2 separate regions of the Homo sapiens genome follow, and region 2 is linked to region 1. The links come from fine-mapping of genetic effects on gene expression. Tissue or cell type: whole blood. Region 1 holds a variant in brackets; the other region holds the start of a gene. All regions are shown on one strand. Distances are from middle to middle.

Region 1 (11,138 bases):
AAAAAAAAAGAAAAGAAAAGAAAATGTGCTGCAATTGATCGTAGTGTTGTTTGCACAACCCTGTGAATATACTAAAAATCACGACATTGTTCACTTTCAGTGGGTGAATTTTATGATATGTGCATTACATCTCAAACACACACACAAGCAAATAATAATTACTAAGTCTTCCTCCTTGCTAGACAATTACATCCCTCATCTTATCTAATCCTCATGAAGCAGATATTCTTCCCATTTTCAAATTTTCCATTTTCACAATCAACTTGCCCAATATCACCTAGCTTGAAAGAGTGTGCTGGGAACTGGAACACAGACCTGAGCCGGTGCACACACTCTGCATGCAACACACTACAAAGCATTCACTGAATGGGCACAATCCTATGGCTCGCGACGGCTACACGGAGTTTGTGGTAATCACAGCAACAATGAAAGACAAACTAAAACGGAGCTGATGATGTTAAGACTAGAGATGGATCTATATTGGGGAATACGGGAGACTTGGGGAGCAATTTCAAAAACATCTTAAAGACTCCCACTGAACAGCCATCCTAAAACAAATAAAGTCAGCTAGTATTTACTGGAAAATATGTTCATATAAAGACAGACCAAATGCATTCTGGGCAGTAAATACATATTTATCACTGATTTTTAACTCCTGTTTTTACATATTTTGTTTAATCTTCACAACCCCGAGAGATAGGAACCATCATCTTTCTTCATCATCATACTTTACCGAGAATCAGAAATTAAGCGATTCAGATGTAATTAAAAATCACTTTCCTTTCTCATAAAACAATTCAAGTAGTCATCAATGGTGTCAATAACCCAGAACTTGACTCATTAAGGGTTGCTGTGAGCATTTTCATGATTAAGTTCAATCTGCCATTTAAGCAGGCTGGTGCCTTTTTACCAAGACTTCCATCCCACCTCCCCATCACCCCCAAAAAGGTGAGTTTAATCACTTTGGTACATACTACAAGAACTGCACAACTTATTCTGAATTATTATTTGATAACTAGGAAAGTAACAAACTTGTCATAATACCCTTAAATGAAGTGACTATTCTCTTTAAGTTAAAGTTTCATACTATGGCTGAGCGGCTAATAAAATATTTAAATGATGCCAATCTAAGGCTAGGCGTGGTGGCTCACACCTGTAATCCCAGCACTTTGGGAGGCCAAGGTGGAAGGATCACCTGAGGTCAGGAGTTTGAGACCAGCCTGGCCAACATGGAGAAACCCTGTCTCTATTAAAAATACAAAAATTAGCCGGGCGTGGTGGCAGGCAGCTGTAATCCCAGCTACTCGAGGCTGAGGCAGGAGAATCACTTGAGCCCAGGAGGCGGAGGTTGCAGTGAGCTGAGATCACACCACTGTATTCTAGCCTGGGCAGCAGAGTGAGACTCAAAAATAAAATAAAACTGGCTGGGCGTGGTGGCTCACACCTGTAATCCCAACACTTTGGGAGGCCGAGGCAGGCAGATCACAAGGTCAGGAGTTCCGCCGGGCACGGTGGCTCACGCCTGTAATCCCATTACCTTGGGAGGCCGAGGCGGGCGGATCACAAGGTCAAGAAATCGAGACCATCCTGGCTAACACGGTGAAACCTCGTCTCTACTAAAAATACAAAAAATTAGCTGGGCATGGTGGTGGGCGCCTGTAGTCCCAGCTACTCGGGAGGCTGAGGCAGGAGAATGGTGTGAACCCGGGAGGCGGAGCTTGCAGTGAGCTGAGATCGCGCCACTGCACTCCAGCCTGGGCGACAGAGCAAGACTCTGTCTCAAAAAAAAAAAAAAAAAAAAAGGTCAGGAGTTCCAGACCAGCCTGGCCAATATGGTGAAACCCCGTCTCTACAAAAAATACAAAAATTAGCTGGGTGTGGTGGCGGGCACCTGTAATCCCAGCTACTGGGGAGGCTGAGGCAGGAGAATGGCTTGAACCCAGGAAGCGGAGGTAGCAGTGAGCCGAGATTGTGCCGCTGCACTCCAGCCTGGGCAACAGAGCAAGACTCCATCTCAAAAAAATAAAATAAAATAAAATAAGCCAATCTAGTAAATCTAAATACTCGCTTGGTAGCAGAGATTAACCATTAATATATAGTTCCGATAAAATGGTTTCTGTCTAGCTTAAAACATTAATAAGGGCAAAACATGATTTTACCAAAAAGAATTAAGTTTACCAGGCACTTCTGGTTGTCTTGAAGCCATTGAAAGACTGGGATCCAGGTGCTTTTTCTATACAGAATTCCGAGCTGAGTCCCTGCCACCTAATAAAATAACAAAGGGCATTTTCTTATGGTGAGCAGCACCAATGCTGTTCTTCTGGCAGGCACACAGAATTGAACGGCTTGTTTACAAGGTTGAAACACACATGCAAGAGCCAGTGGGTGACAAACATGCCAATGAAAAAAGAAGGATAAAGTCAAACGTCTCACCACACCTGTGGCTGATCTTAACACCTGTGAGATGACAGAGCTAAGATGCCATACATGGTGAAAAAGTCACCTTACCACAGTGAAATGATGTGATGACTAAGCGGACAGACAGATGTTAATGAGGAACATGGTCCAGCTGCTGCAAAGTAGCAAAGCTTCCCAGGAAGAGTCCATCCAGAGGTTCTAATAACAACAAACAGCCAGCATTGGAACAGCCCGTCAGAGTCTGCCAAACACTTGTTTATTCCCCACAACAACCTTGCTCATTTCATTTTCTTAACTCACAGCAAGCGGCTAGATACTACAGTAGGGAAATTTGTTCTTTATAGCTAACACTATAAACTATTTACAGCGTTTATCTTGTCTTTTAATCCTTGCAGCAAGATGGCAAAGCAGATATTATTTATCCCAATCCCAATTTTTTTTTTTTTTTTTTTTTGAGACGGAGTCTCACTCTGTCGCCCAGGCTGGAGTGCAGTGGCGCGATCTTGGCTCACTGCAAGCTCCACCTCCCGGGTTCACGCCATTCTCCTGCCTTAGCCTCCCAAGTAGCTGGGACTACAGGCGTCTGCCACCACGCCTGGCTAATTTTTTGTATTTTTAGTAGAGATGGGGTTTCACCGCACTAGCCAGGATGGTCTTGATCTCCTGACCTTGCGATCCGCCCACCTCGGCCTCCCAAAGTGCTAGGATTACAAGCGTGAGCCACCGCGCCCGACCCCAGTTTTTTTTTTAAGCTATCTCTTACAGAAAGGCTATCCCAAATTTAAAGAGAAGGAAACTGGCCGGGTGCGGTGGCTCACGCCTGTAATCCCAGCATTTTGCGAGACCCAGGCGGGCAGATCACTTGAGGTCAGGAGTTCGAGACTAGCCTGGCCAACATGGTGAAACCCCATCTCTACTAAAAATACAAAAATTAGCCGGGCATGGTGGCGGGCGCCTGTAATCCCAGCTACTCGGGAGGCTGAGGCAGGAGAATAGCTTGAACCCGGGAGGCGGAGGTTGCAGTGAGCCGAGATCGAGCCACTGTACTCCAGCCTGGGCGACGGAGTGAGACTCGGTCTCAAAAATAAAAATTAAAAAAATTAAAAAAATGTTAAAAATAATAATAAAGAGAAGGAAACTAAAAATCAGAGGAGTTAAGTAAATTTGTCCACGGTCACAGATAAGTGGTCCGTGCGCAAGGTAGGTAGTTTCATGCCCAGTTTACAGGGGAGTTAAAACGAGGGCCTGAGAAAGTTACTCTTGTTTTTCAGCTTGCTACACCGTCCCTCTATCCCGATAGGACTCAGACAGAGCAAACAAGTTATTGATAGTTCTTCACTAACGAGCATCGCAAAGGCCGAATTCAGCCATCCTCCCAGTCCAGGGAGCATTCCCGCCCCAGACACGTCCCCTTCCCCTTTCCCTTTCCCTGTGCCCCCACCCCCCAGCTCACCGTCCCTCTGCCTCTCCTTCACAATATACAAGACGGTGCCGCCAGGATACGAAAGGCCGGCTGCTTCACCCACCCCTCCAGGCTAAGATTAGGGCCAGGACCCTAGCCGAAGGCGGGGTGTGGGGAGATGAGGTTGAGGACAAGCCGCGGGGGCTCGGGCTGGGCTGGTCCCACGAAGCGGAGGGGAAGCCCGTACGGGAGCTGCAGGGCATTCCCGGAGAGAAGCCCCATTACGGAGACCCCAGAGAGCGGAGCCAGGGAGGCAAGAGGCGACCCAGCCGAGCTCGAAGCCGGGATGAAGGGTTAAGAGGTGCGGGGAGAGGGGAGTGGCTTGGAGGGGCCCCGAGATCGGGCCTCGCCGGAAGCGCCCCTCCTGATCGCCAGAGAACGCAGCCCCAAGGGAGGGCCCAGGCCCGCCATCTGTTCACCTGTGATCCTGCTGCCGCGGGACTGCCTGCGGCCCGGAGTCCGGCACTAAAAAGGTTCCGAGGGCCCACGTCTCCCGAGAGGCTGTGGCGCAGTCTGGACCCAAGCCATTGTGAGAGCGGCGGCGATTTCGAAGGTCCCCAAGACCCACTAGGTAGCAGTACCACCCAGCGGGCAGGCAGCACTGCAGATAAAGCCTCCGGAGACCGCGGGATCTCGCGCGAGACTTGGCCCAGCGGAGCACAGGGCATGCTGGGAGTTGTTGTCCACGATCGCGAGACCCGCCCCCTCCCCATGCCCTTCGCCGCCCAGCGAGTTGTGGAGCCGCAGCTCCGAGTGTGGAATCCGCCAG[C/T]CCCGAGAGGAAACGCCACACTTCACCACCACTTCCTCAGCGCGTGTGCTGTGCCTGGGTCCGTGACAAGCTAAGGGAAGACGGAGGTAGCATAGTAAAATGACACCCACAAACCCAAGCCCTCAAGGCTCAAAAAGGGCTGCCAAGTGCGAGCACTTGTCATCCTGTTTTTCCCACTTCACGGAGGTGAAGCTGAGACTGGGAGAGATGAGAAGTCACTTCGATTAGCAAGCGGTGCAGTGAGCACGGACTGTCTCCCAAAACAGCGGGGTTAGGCAGGGTTCGTACTAGTAGCTGAACCAAAAAAGGGAACCGACCTCACCTGCCTCCCCTAGGGAAGGCGATCCTAATATCATTTCTCTTTTACATAAAGGAGAGTGAGGCTTAGAGGCGCCAGCTGAGGTGTCAGTCACATCCTGAAGGAAGACTTCTCTTATCCCTGAAGGGTTCACAAAGAAGGCGAAGCAACGAAGTTACAGCAGAATTTGCAAAAATCTATCCACGTTTCTACCCCAGTCCAAAGCTCGCCATCAAAACTCATCTCAGGAGAGCTATGATTGGTGGTGCAGGGTGAATGTCACATTTAGATTTCAGCATTTGAGGCTTCCAGCCGTACTGGCAGAACTGAGAGGCCTTGCTCATGCGACTTGAAACTTAAGCGCTGTTTCCAGACCAGGGTGCTTGAGTGCACTAAGAATTAAAGTCTTTGATGAATTCTATAATTAGCTTATCAACAGCACAATTACATTGCAGTATAATTGTGTGTATATGTGTGCGTGCGTGTGTGTGTTAAAGGTGTTCCTTTGTTAATTTGGAGCTTTTAAAATATGCCATATTTTTTAACCTCTGTGGAAGCAAAGCTGGCACCTTGCTCTTTATCCACCACAGGAAGGGATGTATATCACCTCTCAGTCAGAAAAGGAAGAAATAGCACTTTGCACCCTTATGTAGATCATAAGGTGGGATCATCTCATTTATTTCTTAGCCACAAATACATGAAAACTTAAGACTTTCCTGGAAGTTACTATTTGATTAAAACAACTTTTTCTGGCTGGGCACGGTGGTTCAGGCCTGTAATCCCAACACTTTCAGAGGCTGAGGCGTTCGAGACCATCCTGGCCAACACGGCGAAACCCCGTCTCTACTAAAATACAAAAATCAGCCAGGCGTAGTGACAGGTGCCTGTAATCCCAGCTATTCTGGAGACTGAGGCAGGAGAATCTCTTGAACCTGGGAGACGGAGGCTGCAGTCTGCCTTGTCCTAGGTACCCCCAGTGACTGCCAAGGCTTCCACGTGTGTAGCACGAGGAGGAAGAACAGGAGAAACGACCTGAGTACAGCAGTCGGGTTCTTTTGGCTCTCCAGAGGGGTGACGCCATGTACGGCTGGCTGTAGGGTACATGGGTTGAGAGACCGCCTGTGGCTCTCAGGGCCCAGCAGGGCTACCTCTTTCCCTTTATATTGTCTCAACTCTTCACCTCCTTTTAGTTCGCGATTCCTCTGTACCCCTGGCTCTGGGTCCCAGCCCCTATTCCTTCTGATTTGTCCCCCTTTCCCTTTGACTACATATATATGCTCCTCTCCTCCCAGATAGTGATGTTTTAGCTACATCTTATTTCTTCCGGCATTGATTCTTTTGAAAAATTTATTTCTGGCTGGGTGTGGTGGCTCATGCCTGTAATCCCAGCACTTTGGGAGGCCTGAGATCACACTACTGCACTCCAGCCTGGGCTACAGAGTGAGACTCCATCTCAAAAAAAAAAAAAACTTTATCCCTGATATTTGTGGTACCAATGTCTGAAGCTGTCATGGTCTTGGTGCATAGCACCTATGTGAGAGCACCTATTTCTTTTCCACAAATAATAGACTGTAAACATTTTTTTTTTTTTTTTTTTTGAGACAAGGTCTCGCTCTGTTGCCCAGGCTGGAATGCAGTGGCGCAATCTCGGCTCACAGTAACCTCTGCCTCCCAGTTTCAAGCGATTCTCCTGCCTCAGTCTACCAAGTAGCTGGGACTACAGGCGCCTGCCACCACGCCCGGCTCCACGCCCGGCTAATTTTTTGGATTTTCAGTAGAGATGGGGTTTCACCGTGTTAGCCAGGATGGTCTCGATCTCCTGACCTCGTGATCCGGCCGGCTGCCTCGGCCTCCCAAAGTGCTGGGATCACAGGCGTGAGCCACCGCACCAGCCAAACTTTTAATCTTAGCAATTTTGTGGGTTTTCCCCTCTAAGTGGGTGTATTTTTGAGGAGGAGCTAATTTTTTTTTCTTTTTTTTTTTTTTTGAGACGGATTCTTGCTCTGTCACCCAGGCTGGAGGGCAGTGGCGCAATCTCAGCACACTGCAACCTCCTCCTCCTGGGTTCAAGCGATTCTCCTGCCTTAGCCTCCTGAGTAGGTGGGATTACAGGCACGTGCCACCACGCCCGGCTAATTTTTGTAGAGATGGGGTTTCACCATGTTAGGCAGGCTATTCTCGAACTCCTGACCTCAGGTGATCCGCCTGCCTCGGCCTCCCAAAGTGCTGGGATTACAGGCATGAGCCACCACACCCGGCCAGAAATAAATTTTTCAAAAGAATCAATGCCGGAAGAAATAAGATGTAGCTAAAACATCACTATCTGGGAGGAGAGGAGCATATATATGTAGTCAAAGGGAAAGGGGGACAAATCAGAAGGAATAGGGGCTGGGACCCAGAGCCAGGGGTACAGAGGAATCGCAAACTAAAAGGAGGTGAAGAGTTGAGACAATATAAAGGGGAAGAGGTAGCCCTGCTGGGCCCTGAGAGCCACAGGCGGTCTCTCGACCCATGTACCCTACAGCCAGCCGTACATGGCGTCACCCCTCTGGAGAGCCAAAAGAACCCGACTGCTGTACTCAGGTCGTTTCTCCTGTTCTTCCTCCTCGTGCTACACACGTGGAAGCCTTGGCAGTCACTGGGGGTACCTAGGACAAGGCAGTCAGCCCTAAACATTCTGAAGTCCTGACACTGCTTAATTCAGCCTGACCAGGACCCCAGCAAAACCCCTGTGGTCCGGGAGGCAGCGAAAGAAGGCTAGAGGTGGCGGGGAGCCACGGACCTGGGTTCTATTCCTGCCTCTGCCACCCCACTGCCGTGTGATATCGGGCGTCTTGCTTCAATTTCCTCCCGAGGTCTTGAGGGATGACCGGGAGACAGATCGCTTGGGTTTGAACGCAGGCTACACCAAAGCACTACGATGCGGCGTTGGGCGGGTTACTTAACTCCTGGGCCTCGGTTTTCCCTTCTGCGTGGTATCATTGTAAGGGGTAACGGAGAAAAGCCGTGAGCTAACCCCTGGTGGATGCTAGCAAGCACCGCCGTCTCCCGTCCTCCCCAGGCACAGCCTCTCCTTCCTCCACCCTGCACCTGGCAGGGGGACCGGAGGTCCCCGCGCGCCGGCCAGCGCCCCACCACCCACGCCGCCGGGTCCCGGGCGGCCTGCCGTGACAGCGGCAGTGCATTGTGGGGCTTGTAGTGCGGGACTGGGTCTGGGTGGGTGGGCGCGGCCGCAGCAGTCGCAGCGGGGCCATCTTCGGCGGGCGAGTGGGCTCGGCCTGTGCAACCCGCACCTGCGTCCCTCGCCCGGCCCGATGGCGCCGCGGCCGCTGGGCCCCTTGGTGCTGGCGCTGGGCGGCGCCGCGGCGGTGCTGGGCTCGGTGCTCTTCATCCTCTGGAAGACCTACTTCGGCCGCGGCCGAGAGCGGCGCTGGGACCGGGGAGAGGCCTGGTGGGGCGCGGAGGCTGCCCGCCTCCCCGAGTGGGACGAGTGGGACGTGAGTGCCGGGCCGAGGCCTGCGGAAGGGCGGGCAGGCTGGGCTGCGACTCCGCGCATGTGGCCAAGGGGTGTGACCACGGAACGGCCCTGCTGGTGCCGGGAGCTTGGGGGGTCGAGGGCTTGGCAGCCGCAGCGCACAGGCCCCGCGCGGGTGGGCGGTCAGAGCCCGGGAACCGAGGAACGGGTGGGTGTGCTTGGGTGCGTGCGGCGCCTTGGCGCCACGCCGTCGCTCCACGCCATGAGGCTCGGGTGTTCCAGCGGGGGCCGGAGTTTGGAGGGCGCGGCTCGGGAGCATCCCGGGGCCCAGCCGGGTCGGCTCGCGCCCCTCCGGCGCCTGCGCAGTGCACCCCGCCCGGGGGTGGGGATGTCGGGAGAAACCCCATCCCCTCCCGCCTGCGGTCGGGACTCCGAGACCGGTGGAGGAAGCGGGGCGCGCGAGCGTTTAAGGAATTCGCCAAGGGTTTGGAATTCAGGACTGCAAAGGCGGCGTTCGTCCCACTCATCCAGACCATGCCTGCCTGTCCCAGGACGGGTGGAAGGCGGGCCTGGGCCCTCTGGTGCCTTCGGTCTTCCCTCGGGAAAGGTCCTTCGGGAGGCCGCCAGCCGCAACCTTACCTCCGCTTCCCCGCAGCCCGAGGACGAGGAGGACGAGGAGCCGGCGCTGGAGGAGCTGGAACAGCGCGAGGTGCTGGTGCTGGGGCTGGATGGCGCAGGCAAGAGCACGTTCCTGCGCGTGTTGTCGGGGAAGCCACCGCTGGAAGGCCACATCCCCACCTGGGGCTTCAACTCCGTGCGTCTGCCCACCAAGGACTTTGAGGTGGACCTGCTAGAAAGTGAGCGGACACCCTACCCCATCTCCCCGTCTCCTCTACTGGACCAGTCCTGGATTCTCTGCAGGGAAGGGGGCTTCCAAAATGCATGTCTAAGCAGCACATTCCCCTCTACGAATCCTTCCCACCGCTCTCCGGGGCACAGGATTCAGCCCACGCTCTGTGCTCTGACATTTAGGGCCCTTCGTGATCGGGCCTCTCCAGCTGCACCGCCTGCCCCATCACCCCTACCAAAGTCGATAGGCCTAACACAGAGATACTAACAGCTAAGGGTTCATATGCCAAGCACTTGACGGGCATTGCTTAAGAAAACTCCCCTAAACAATTACATAAAACTAGAATCGGTCACTACCCTCGTTATCTCCAGAGGAAAATGAGTTCCAGCAGTAGTATCATGAATCCAAGGTCACCCACCTTTCTAGTCTTTTTTTTTTTTTTTTTTTTTTTGAGATGGAGTCTCACTGTGACACCCAGGCTGGAGTGCAATGGCGCTGTCTCGGCTCACTGCAACCTCCTCCTCCCGGGTTCAAGCGATTCTCCAGCTTCAGCCTCCTGAGCAGCTGGGATTACAGGCGCCCGCCACCACGCCCGGCTAATTTTTGTATTTTTAGTAGAGACGGGGGTTTCACCACATTGGTCAGGCTAGTCTTGAACTCCTGACCTCAAGTGATCTGCCCGCTTCGACCTCCCAAAGTGCTGGGATTACAGGCGTAAGCCATCGCACCCCACCATTCTAGTTTTTTTTTTTTGGAGACAGGGTCTCTGTCGCCCAGGCTGGAATGGCAGTGGGCAGTGGCACACCCTCCTCCACTATTGCCTGTCTGGCCCAAACTAGTGTCATCTTTCCTCTCAGCACCACAGCCTCCTCTTTGGTCTTCCTGCTTCCCCTTCTGTCCCTAGTGTCAGCTAGAGAAAACCCATGTCAGGTAATGTCACTCTTGCTTAAAGCCCTTGGGGGGCTCCCCACCCCCTCACTGTGGTCTTTGGCCCCATGTGGCCCGCCCCAGCCAGCCTCACAGCCATCTCTTTCTCCTTCTTGCAGTGCCTCAGCACCCCAGCCTTCTTTCTGTTTCCCAGACACTTCCAGCATGCTCTCCCCTCTGTCTGGAATGCTTTCCTCTGCCTCTTCCCATGGCTGGCTCCTTCTCATCATCCCACTCAGCTCACATGCCACTTCCTTGATGAGACCTACCCAGACCACCCAATCCAGGGCCAACCCCTGTTCCACCTCAGCCACTTTCCCTTTTTTCTGTTTTATTTCTTTCCTTTTTGAAATGTGTTGATGTCATTGCCATGTCCTTCCCAGTTAGGGAGGGAGCTCCTTGGTGCAGGGCCCCTGCTTGCCTTGCTCACCTCTGTATCTGCAGCACCCAGATCAGTGCTTGGCACCTAGCAAGCACTCAGTAAATATTTGTTGAGTGCCTGCTATGTGCCAGGCATTGTGCTGAGGGCTTTGTGGGGATTCAGAGGTAAGTGCCTCTGACTCTCACAGCTTAGAATCCTCAAGTGTCAGAAACATAGCCAGAAACACTAGGGTGCGGGGTGACCAATGGGACTGTGCAGAGGAGCAGAGAGGAAAAGAAAGGTGATCCAGGCTGGGGGACTGTGTTGGCAACCATGTGTTCATAGGATGAAATATGACATTTCCAAGGGAAAAGAAGGGGATGGGGGAAACTGAATGGAGAATGGCTGTGTATAGGCAGGGCAGGGGGTCCTGAGTTTTCTAGACAATAGGACTCCTGGCTCCTGTCACAGCCATCACTGACAGTTTTGAACCTGTAGGAGAAAGCTAGGAATTAGCAAGAGGCAAAGCCAGACAACCCAGGGGAGAGAACTGAAGACTTCCATTTACTGAGCACCTG
Region 2 (8,000 bases), 27 kb after region 1:
CACTCCCAAGCCACAAGACCCACCACACCAACCACCTGGGGGTCTTTGCCTCCCCATTCCCAAATCCATTGTTGGAACCTCCTTCAGCCCCTTGGATCCCAGACTCTGTCTCCTATGACCCACTCATCTACCAGTATGGCAACTTTTGGAAAGGGAAGTCACTTCTCTCCGGGCCTCAGGTGGATTTACAAGGAAGGTACCAGACTAATAACCTCTACTTAGTGGCAGGTCTCAGGACAGAGATGAAGGCACATACCTGCCCACAGGACAGGGCTCCCTTCCAGCTATAAGCCTCTCAGAGAAGCTCTTGATGTATTATTGCAACACATGAAATGGGACGGTCTAAATACATGAGATCTAGAGCTGCCGGGTCTGGGGCCTGAGGCTGGGCCCCAGCACCTTACTAGTGCTCCATGGGAGAGAAAAAGCCAGGATGTGGAGCCAACTAATGGCTTCACTTTTAAAATAGACAGGCAAATCCTACTCCATTTCTCATCTAGAAAGAGAGAGAAAGAGCTACCTCAGAGAAATGAAGTAGTCGAATCATATCCAGAGGTTAGGTCCTCATATTGTATATAGTCAAAATTATCTTTGACACGGTTGCCAGGGGCTGGAGGTAGAGGAAGATGGGGAGTTGTTTAATGGGTATAGTTTCAGTTTTGCAAAATGAAAAGGTTTTAGGGACCTGTTGCACAACAAAGTCAATATCCTTTACTGAACAGTGCACTTAAAAATGGTTAGGATGGTAACTTTTATGTGTTTTTTAACCACATTTTAAAATTTTTAAAAATGTTCCTCTTTGACTACAGTAAGTGCCTATGGCTTGGTATATACAATCCTGTGCAGTAATTCTTATGAGAACCACTGAGATAAAAGACAGGAACTCAAGGAATTCTGTATCAAATGTCTGGCCATTCAAATCCTTTATCTTTAGGGGAGCTGCTTAAACTCCCTGACAGGTAAGGGGAAGGATGAATGAAGAATTCTAGAGTATTCCCACTTTCCTGTAGGGTTTACTCTCCTCCGTTTTAGCGTTCACTCTCTATAGCCTTAATATACATAAAATCGATTTTGTCATTGGAACATTTATTGAGATGGTGGAATCCCTAAAAATCAGTTCATCCTTAAATTCATGAGAAGCCATACCCATGCCAGAGATTTACTGGTTTCTCTTCTATTCTCCCAGGCACCTGGGTACATCCTCCCTAAACATCTCTGACCTTAGTTCACACAGTAAGGTCAGGGTTTAGTCAGTACAATGAAAAATGAGCCAGCCAGGACACAGTCCTAACTCTGTGAACTTTGAACCAGCTCACTTCTCCCCTCTGAAACTTGGTTTCTCCATCTGCAAAATGAGGACATCTTAGGGCCCTTCCCAGCTTCCCACAGTGCAGGACAGTGACCTAAAGGAATATATGGACCACACCCACCATTCAGCACATAGGGCTTCCGTACAAGCTCTTTAGGCCTCTCCTCTATGTCCACCTCCATGGCCTTCACCTGCAGAGAACAGAGCCCTTGAGACCAGAAGGATCTTTGATGAGGGAAAGTTATAGACTCCTGCTTATCCCAACACAACTACTAACCCATAAGAATCCCTGCCCACGGTTAGGTAGAAGTAGGTAACAATGAGAACTAATGCCCTGGAGGCTTTTTCTCTCTCTCTCTCTTTTTTTTTTTCTTTTTCTTTTTGAGACAGAGTCTCATTCTGTTGCCCAGGTTCAAATGCAGTGGCACAATCTTGGTTGACTGCAACCTCCCCCCGGGTTCAAGTGATCTCCTGCCTCAGCCTCTCAAGTAGCTGGGATTACAATCATGCGCCACCATGCCCAGCTAAATTTTGTGTTTTTAGTAGAGATGGGGTTTTGCCATGTTGGCCAGGCCGGTCTCAAACTCCTGGCCTCAAGTAATCCGTCTGTGCCTTTTACCCCCAACACAATCTTGGTGACAAGGACTTTGTGTTTTGTTCTCTATTAAATCCCCAGGGTGCTTAGGATGTGACATGTTCTCAATAAGTAGTTAACCTAATGAATGGGCTTCGCGAATGAATTTGTTCCATTGCCTTAGGCAAGTTTCTTTTTATTCTTTCATGCCAGAGGAAAATGGCACTACCATTTCTTGAATAAATGTGAGGCTACAGCCACACAGTTAGATAGTCCCTAAGGCAAGGAGTGTTATACCCATTTTATAGATAGGCAGGCAGAGAAAGATGAATTGCTTGCTTTTCTTTTGGGAACCTGGATTCTTTTAATAGTTGTTGAAGCCTCCAGGGGGCCAGGCGGATCACTTGAGGCCCAGCCTGGCCAACATAGCGAAACCCTGCCTCTACTAAAACCACAAAAATCAGCCGGGTATGGTGGCACACGCTTATAATCCCAGCTATTTGGGACGCTGAGGTGGGATATAGCTTGAACCCGGGAAGGAGACTGCAGTCAGGGAAGCCTAGGGAAGCCTCAGACCAAGGATGATTGAATAACAAAGAAAAGGTGTAAGTAAAGATCTCCAACTCTTAGGGAGTACTAATTAGGAAAGTTAAGGGTAGAAAAAGATAAATTAAGGAAAATACCGTTGAGATGCTAATGGGTTAATTTCAGAGAAAAAAGACTGAGTAGAGGGGGTATGGGGAATGTGTGCTGGGGAGGGAGTGTGACGAAGGTCGTAAAGAGACCCTTGCTCAACGTCAGTTGAGCGTTCTGACTGTGGGGAGGTCGAAAACTCGGAAGGGCCTGAGGGAAGGAATGGGCAGTACCACGTTCTGACACCTAGGTCAGTATGGCGGGGGAAGAGTAAAGAAGACAAGGACCGAGACCCTGCCATGTCAGTACCTTTCTCTTACGGAGGGGCACCGCCCTGTTGGGGTCCACAGCCAACCCCATCTCGGCCAGGTTCTGCCGTACCGATTTAGCGTGGTCCCAGGCATGTCGGATGTGGGAGCTACCGGCAAAGAGAGACATCGCGGATCCGTCATCTCGCGGACCGTCCCGGCCGAGGCCCACGGCCACCCGGAACCCCAGCCCCCTCACCATTCGATCCGCGGCGCTGCCTTCCGTCGAGCATTCCGGTTCAGACGCTTTCGGTTGACACTGTAACCAAACTTCTGCCTCCGGGTTTTGCCCTTGGCCTTGGGCATCGCGCTGACCACCGCACCAGCAGCTCAAACACGCTGCCTCTGTCTCTCAGACCTCGTGTAACAAACTCCTTCCGGAAGGCGTGCACAAGGCTTTGCGGGCATTTGGGGAAATGTAGTCCTTTTGTAGCACTACCGTGCTGAGCACTACGACTCCCAGGATGCAACGAGCATTTGCGCCTGCGTACAAGGCTCAATTTATTCGTTTCCCCGCCCCTTTCATGACCTTCACCGGGAGGCTGAGGTCGGAGTCCCGATTTTCTCCTGCTGCTGTGGCCCGGACATGGCGACTCCCGGCCCTGTGATTCCGGAGGTCCCCTTTGAACCATCGAAGCCTCCAGTCATTGAGGGGCTGAGCCCCACTGTTTACAGGAATCCAGAGAGTTTCAAGGAAAAGTTCGTTCGCAAGACCCGCGAGAACCCGGTGGTACCCATAGGTAAGTGGGTGCGGTAGGAACTGCACAAGGAGAGGACAGTGATGTCGGAGGGAAGGAAGTAGAGAAGGACCAGAGCGCTAGCGGGGAGCGGAAGGAGAGCGGACTAGAGAAGAGACGAGGGGGCGGGGCGGTGAGGGGCGAAACTGATTGGAGCGGGAGCAGCGGGTTTAGGGGGCGGGATTTGGGGCCTAAGATTGGGAGGACTCTGTAACTAGGAAGACCTCGACTCGACCTACCCTCGCCGCCCTCCCTCCGCTGTGATCCAGAGATCTTGGCTTTGGGGAAGCGAGACCCAAAGCGGGGAATGACCTGCGGGGCCCGACCTGCTGTTTCCCAGTTGCTTTGTCCCCTCCTCAGGTTGCCTGGCCACGGCGGCCGCCCTCACCTACGGCCTCTACTCCTTCCACCGGGGCAACAGCCAGCGCTCTCAGCTCATGATGCGCACCCGGATCGCCGCCCAGGGTTTCACGGTCGCAGCCATCTTGCTGGGTCTGGCTGTCACTGCTATGAAGTCTCGACCCTAAGCCCAGGGTCTGGCCTTGAAAGCTCCGCAGAAATGATTCCAAAACCCAGGGAGCAACCACTGGCCCTACCGTGGGACTTACTCCCTCCTCTCCTTTGAGAGGCCCATGTGTCGCTGGGGAGGAAGTGACCCTTTGTGTAACTGTAACCGAAAGTTTTTTCAAAAATCCTAGATGCTGTTGTTTGAATGTTACATACTTCTATTTGTGCCACATCTCCCCTCCACTCCCCTGCTTAATAAACTCTAAAAATCCACTTGTATTTAATTCAGTATCATCCCCATGGTTTTTGGTCTTTGATTTTGGAGGAAACGGACTTTGGAGTGGTGCTTAGAAATCGTGTAGTCTAGTGATTCCCGAACTTTCCTAGTAACAGCCACCCAGGGCACTTTGAAAGCAGAGATTTGGCCAGGCGCAGTGGCTCACACCTGTAATCCCAGCACTCTGGGAGGCCGAAGCGAGCGGATCACCTGAGGTCAAGAGTTCAAGACCAGCCTGACCAACATGGAGAAACCCCATCTCTACTAAAAATACAAAATTAGCTGGGCGTGGTGTTGCGTGCCTGTAATCCCAGCTACTCGCGAGGCTGAGGCAGGAGAATCACTTGAACCCGGGAGGCGGAGGTTGTGGTGAGCTGAGATCGCGCCATTGCACTTCAGCCTGGGCAACAAGAGCAAAACTCCATCTCAAAAAAAAAAAAAAAAAAAAAGAATCTCAAGGTCACTCCTTGAGATTCTAGTTCAGTGGGCCTAGAGTAATGCCATTTGAAAAATACTGGTCTAGCCAGCAGTTTTTCAGACTTTCAGTAGGACAACCTTCCTTCAGATGAGGCCTCCCATAGTCGGGTCAGAGGCAGAGGGTTCTGCCCTCCACTCCGCATAACCTCCTCACCCTGCTCCCACCTCCCTAGAGTCTATGGGGCTCCACTGATCTAGACCATCTAGTTCTTTTTTTGAGACGAGTCTCACTGTGTCAGCCAGGCTGGAGTGCAGTGGCAGAATCTCGGCTCACTGCAACCTCCGCCTCCCGGGCTCAAGCAATTTTCCTGCCTCAGCCTCCCGAGTAGCTGGGATTACAGGTGTGTGCCACCACGCCCGGCTAATTTTTGTATTTCGTATTTTTAGTAGAATACTAAAACAACATGGTTTCACCATGTTGGCCAGGCTGGTCTTGAACTCCTGACCTCAGGTAATCCCCCAACCTCGGCCTCCCAAAGTGCTGGGATTACAGACGTGAGCCACCACGCCCAGCCTAGACCATCTGGTTCTTGACACAGTATAGAAGAGGAAACAGGCTCAGAGAAGCAGTCTGGTACAGTGGGAAGAACACAGTCCCGAAGCTCTCCAGAGATTTGTGTACATAGTGTTTGAGGGTTCTGGAAGAGGAGGCTGAGGACCTGAGCACACTCTAGAAGAGAGGTGACCTGTTAGTTCCTCCTTCATGTAGTTTCAAACAAGTATTCCTGGTCTGTGGTCAGCGCTCCTCAAATGTTGGATTTGAGGACCTGCGCTCTTCCCGAGTGATTGTACTGTTTTCAACACCAGCTTCAAGCTGGCAGAAGGAAAAAGGGAGTGAAGACACACCCCTTCTTGAACCCCCCAACAGTCTAGATCTCAGTGGAGGGCTGTACTAGGGCCAGCTAAGTTGCTTGCCTCCACCATGTTCTCTCAGCTTTGAGGCAGAGATGATAGATGTAGAGCAGTGCACTGTGGTGACCCTTGGCATCCAGATACAAGACAAGGACATGGAGTGATGACCACTGTTTGTAAGTGTTGGTGTCATGGTGTCCCCCTCCAAAAATGTTGAAGTCCTTCTAGTGCCTTAGAATTTGACCTTAGGCTGGGTGCTATGGTTCATCCCTGTAATCCCAGCACTTTGGGAGGCCAAAGTGGATAAATTGCTTGAGCCCAGGAGTTTGCCCAGCCTGGGTGACATGGCAAAGCCCCGTCTCTACTAAAAATACAAAGATTAGCCAAATGTGGTGGCACGTGCCTGTAGTCCCAGCTACCTGAGAGGCTGAGGTGGAAGGATTGCCTGACCCAAGGAAGTTGAGGCTGCAGTGAGCTGAGATTGCACCACTGCACTCCAGCCTCAGTGATAAAGCGAGACCCTGTTTGAGAAAAAAAACAGAAAACGAAGATTTGGCCACAAAGACAGACATACCTAGAAGGCAATGTGCAAACAGCCACCTGATGGGGGCAGGATTGGGGTGATGCGTCTGCCAGCTAAGGGATGCCTGAGGCTACCAGAAGCCAGAAGCAGGTGGAACAGACCCTTCCCCAGCTCCTTCAGAGGGAGCATGGCTCTGCCACAGCTTGATTTCAGATTTCTGGCCTCAAGAACTATGAGACAATAAATTTCTGTTCTAAGCCAGCTAGTTCATGTACCTTCTTACAGAAGCCCTAGGAAGCTAATATTTACTGGCAATTACTCAAATCTTTTTAAACATCATGCAGGTCATGAACGTCCTGTTTGCAAACTCTGCTGAAGGGGAAGAAGGTGTGATCACTGGTTGTTTATCCAAAATCCAAGATGAGCCCAGTTGAAGGAGGAAGCGAAATACACAGGGCAGTGGACCCTCCACATCCAGAAGGTCCCAGCCAACCCTAAGGAGGGGAGTCTCATGGGTCTTCAGGGCTCTTACCCAGGCTTAGGAGGAAGCTACCACCAGGAACCTCTGGTCTCGCTTTTCCCTCCCACTACAAGCCACTTCCCCTCTGGGAACCTTGGTGTCCTTGGTTATATGGTGAGAATAACAGAATTTACCTCACAGACTTGTTAAAGGATCGAGGTTACAAAAGCATTCTGCGAGAGGCTGTCTTTCCTCCTGGAGGTGGAGGCAACAGACATGGAGAGCTTGGGGCTCCCACTTGGCTGGGAAATGGGGGAACATTCTCCCTTCTCTCAAGGTCATGAAGCTGGGAAAGTTCTAAGCACAAACCGAGCCCTGACACCAGTTGTGGCTTCCAGAGAAGTGAGAATGATAATAAATAAGTGTAAAAAGAGTCAACAACACACCCTTTAAGCCAAGAAAAAAAATACATCAGGAGGGACAGTCACAATTGAGTAGACTGAGAGGAGGCGTGAGGGGCTGGACCAGAGGGCCAGGAGGGAGCGAGGCGTGATGGGGTGAGGGCCCCCCTCCCAGCGCCTGGAGATGGGGAGGAGTGGAATAGGCTGTGGGTAGCAGCTGCTGCGAGTCTCCACCCCGACCAAAGCAGCTGCTCCTCCTGTGCCCAGGCCCAGCCCATGCTCTGTGGCCATGCACCTAGCAGGCACCTAGCGGGACAGTGGCGTCTGCTTCAGGGACATGAGCACCGAGCGCAGGCGGGACACATCTTTGCACTGCTTGCTGCTCTTGGGGTTGAAGTCACATAGCTGGGCCACCTTCTCCCACTCTGTGCCTGGGGTCTCCTCCTTGGATTCCTTCACGAAAGCCTCCTCGGATGCCCTGCGGGTGGAGATAGGACGGGCTTTTATAGCAGTCTGCTTTCCCCCAGCCTTGCCCTTGAGCAAGGCTGCTTTGCCCAGCCTACTCTGGGGCACTGTGTCCTCCCCAGCCTTGTGCCCCCCTGACTTCAGAGGAGGGCAGCCTTGGCGCAGGAGGAAGCCTAGCTTGGTCCTGCCTCAGGACCTTGGCACTTGCTATCACCTCTTCCTGGAACACGCTTCTCCCAGACCTGTTCCTGGCTTGCTGCTTCTTGTCATTCAGGTCTCAGTGCGGGCCTCACCTCCTCAGAAAGTCTTCCCAGCCTAGGCACCCTCTGTTCATTACTTCCCCATCGGGAGTTCCCAACCTGAGGTTCCTGACACCTAAAGACCCTTGGAGGTCCTAGGACGACCTAATGCAGGACCTTAGCTATTTCACCATTTCCAAAAACTTGGCAGAAGTAGGACACTGACTAACCATCTAAC

Evidence for each region. PIP is the estimated chance that this variant, and not a neighbour inherited with it, causes the effect.
Region 2: it holds the start of HIGD2A, and the variant in region 1 is fine-mapped to the expression of HIGD2A in whole blood (TOPMed, PIP above 0.99).

The regions. Positions count from the first base shown.
Region 1 is chr5:176,357,303-176,368,440 of GRCh38, forward strand. It overlaps KIAA1191, which reads right to left and starts at 4,462. Exons shown (of 9, transcript NM_020444.5): 1 at 4,300-4,462; 2 at 2,509-2,616; 3 at 2,179-2,265. The coding sequence starts at 2,206. ARL10 (ARF like GTPase 10) reads left to right here and starts at 8,185. Exons shown (of 4, transcript NM_173664.6): 1 at 8,185-8,444; 2 at 9,078-9,279. The coding sequence starts at 8,262. It overlaps MIR1271 (microRNA 1271), which reads left to right and starts at 10,644; the gene lies at 10,644-10,729. RefSeq lists enhancers at 4,218-4,537, 7,650-7,899 and a silencer at 8,050-8,439. The variant C/T (reference allele first, on the strand shown) is at 4,650.
Region 2 is chr5:176,385,410-176,393,409 of GRCh38, forward strand. It overlaps HIGD2A (HIG1 hypoxia inducible domain family member 2A), which reads left to right and starts at 3,342. Exons shown (of 2, transcript NM_138820.4): 1 at 3,342-3,564; 2 at 3,922-4,352. The coding sequence starts at 3,411. The coding sequence ends at 4,088. NOP16 (NOP16 nucleolar protein) reads right to left here and starts at 3,189. Exons shown (of 5, transcript NM_016391.8): 1 at 3,024-3,189; 2 at 2,826-2,934; 3 at 1,431-1,500. The coding sequence starts at 3,130. It overlaps CLTB (clathrin light chain B), which reads right to left. Exons shown (of 6, transcript NM_007097.5): 6 at 7,092-7,536. The coding sequence ends at 7,365. It also overlaps a transcript of ARL10 not described here. RefSeq lists enhancers at 2,493-3,176, 2,828-4,027, 3,300-3,619, 3,820-4,039, 3,861-4,544.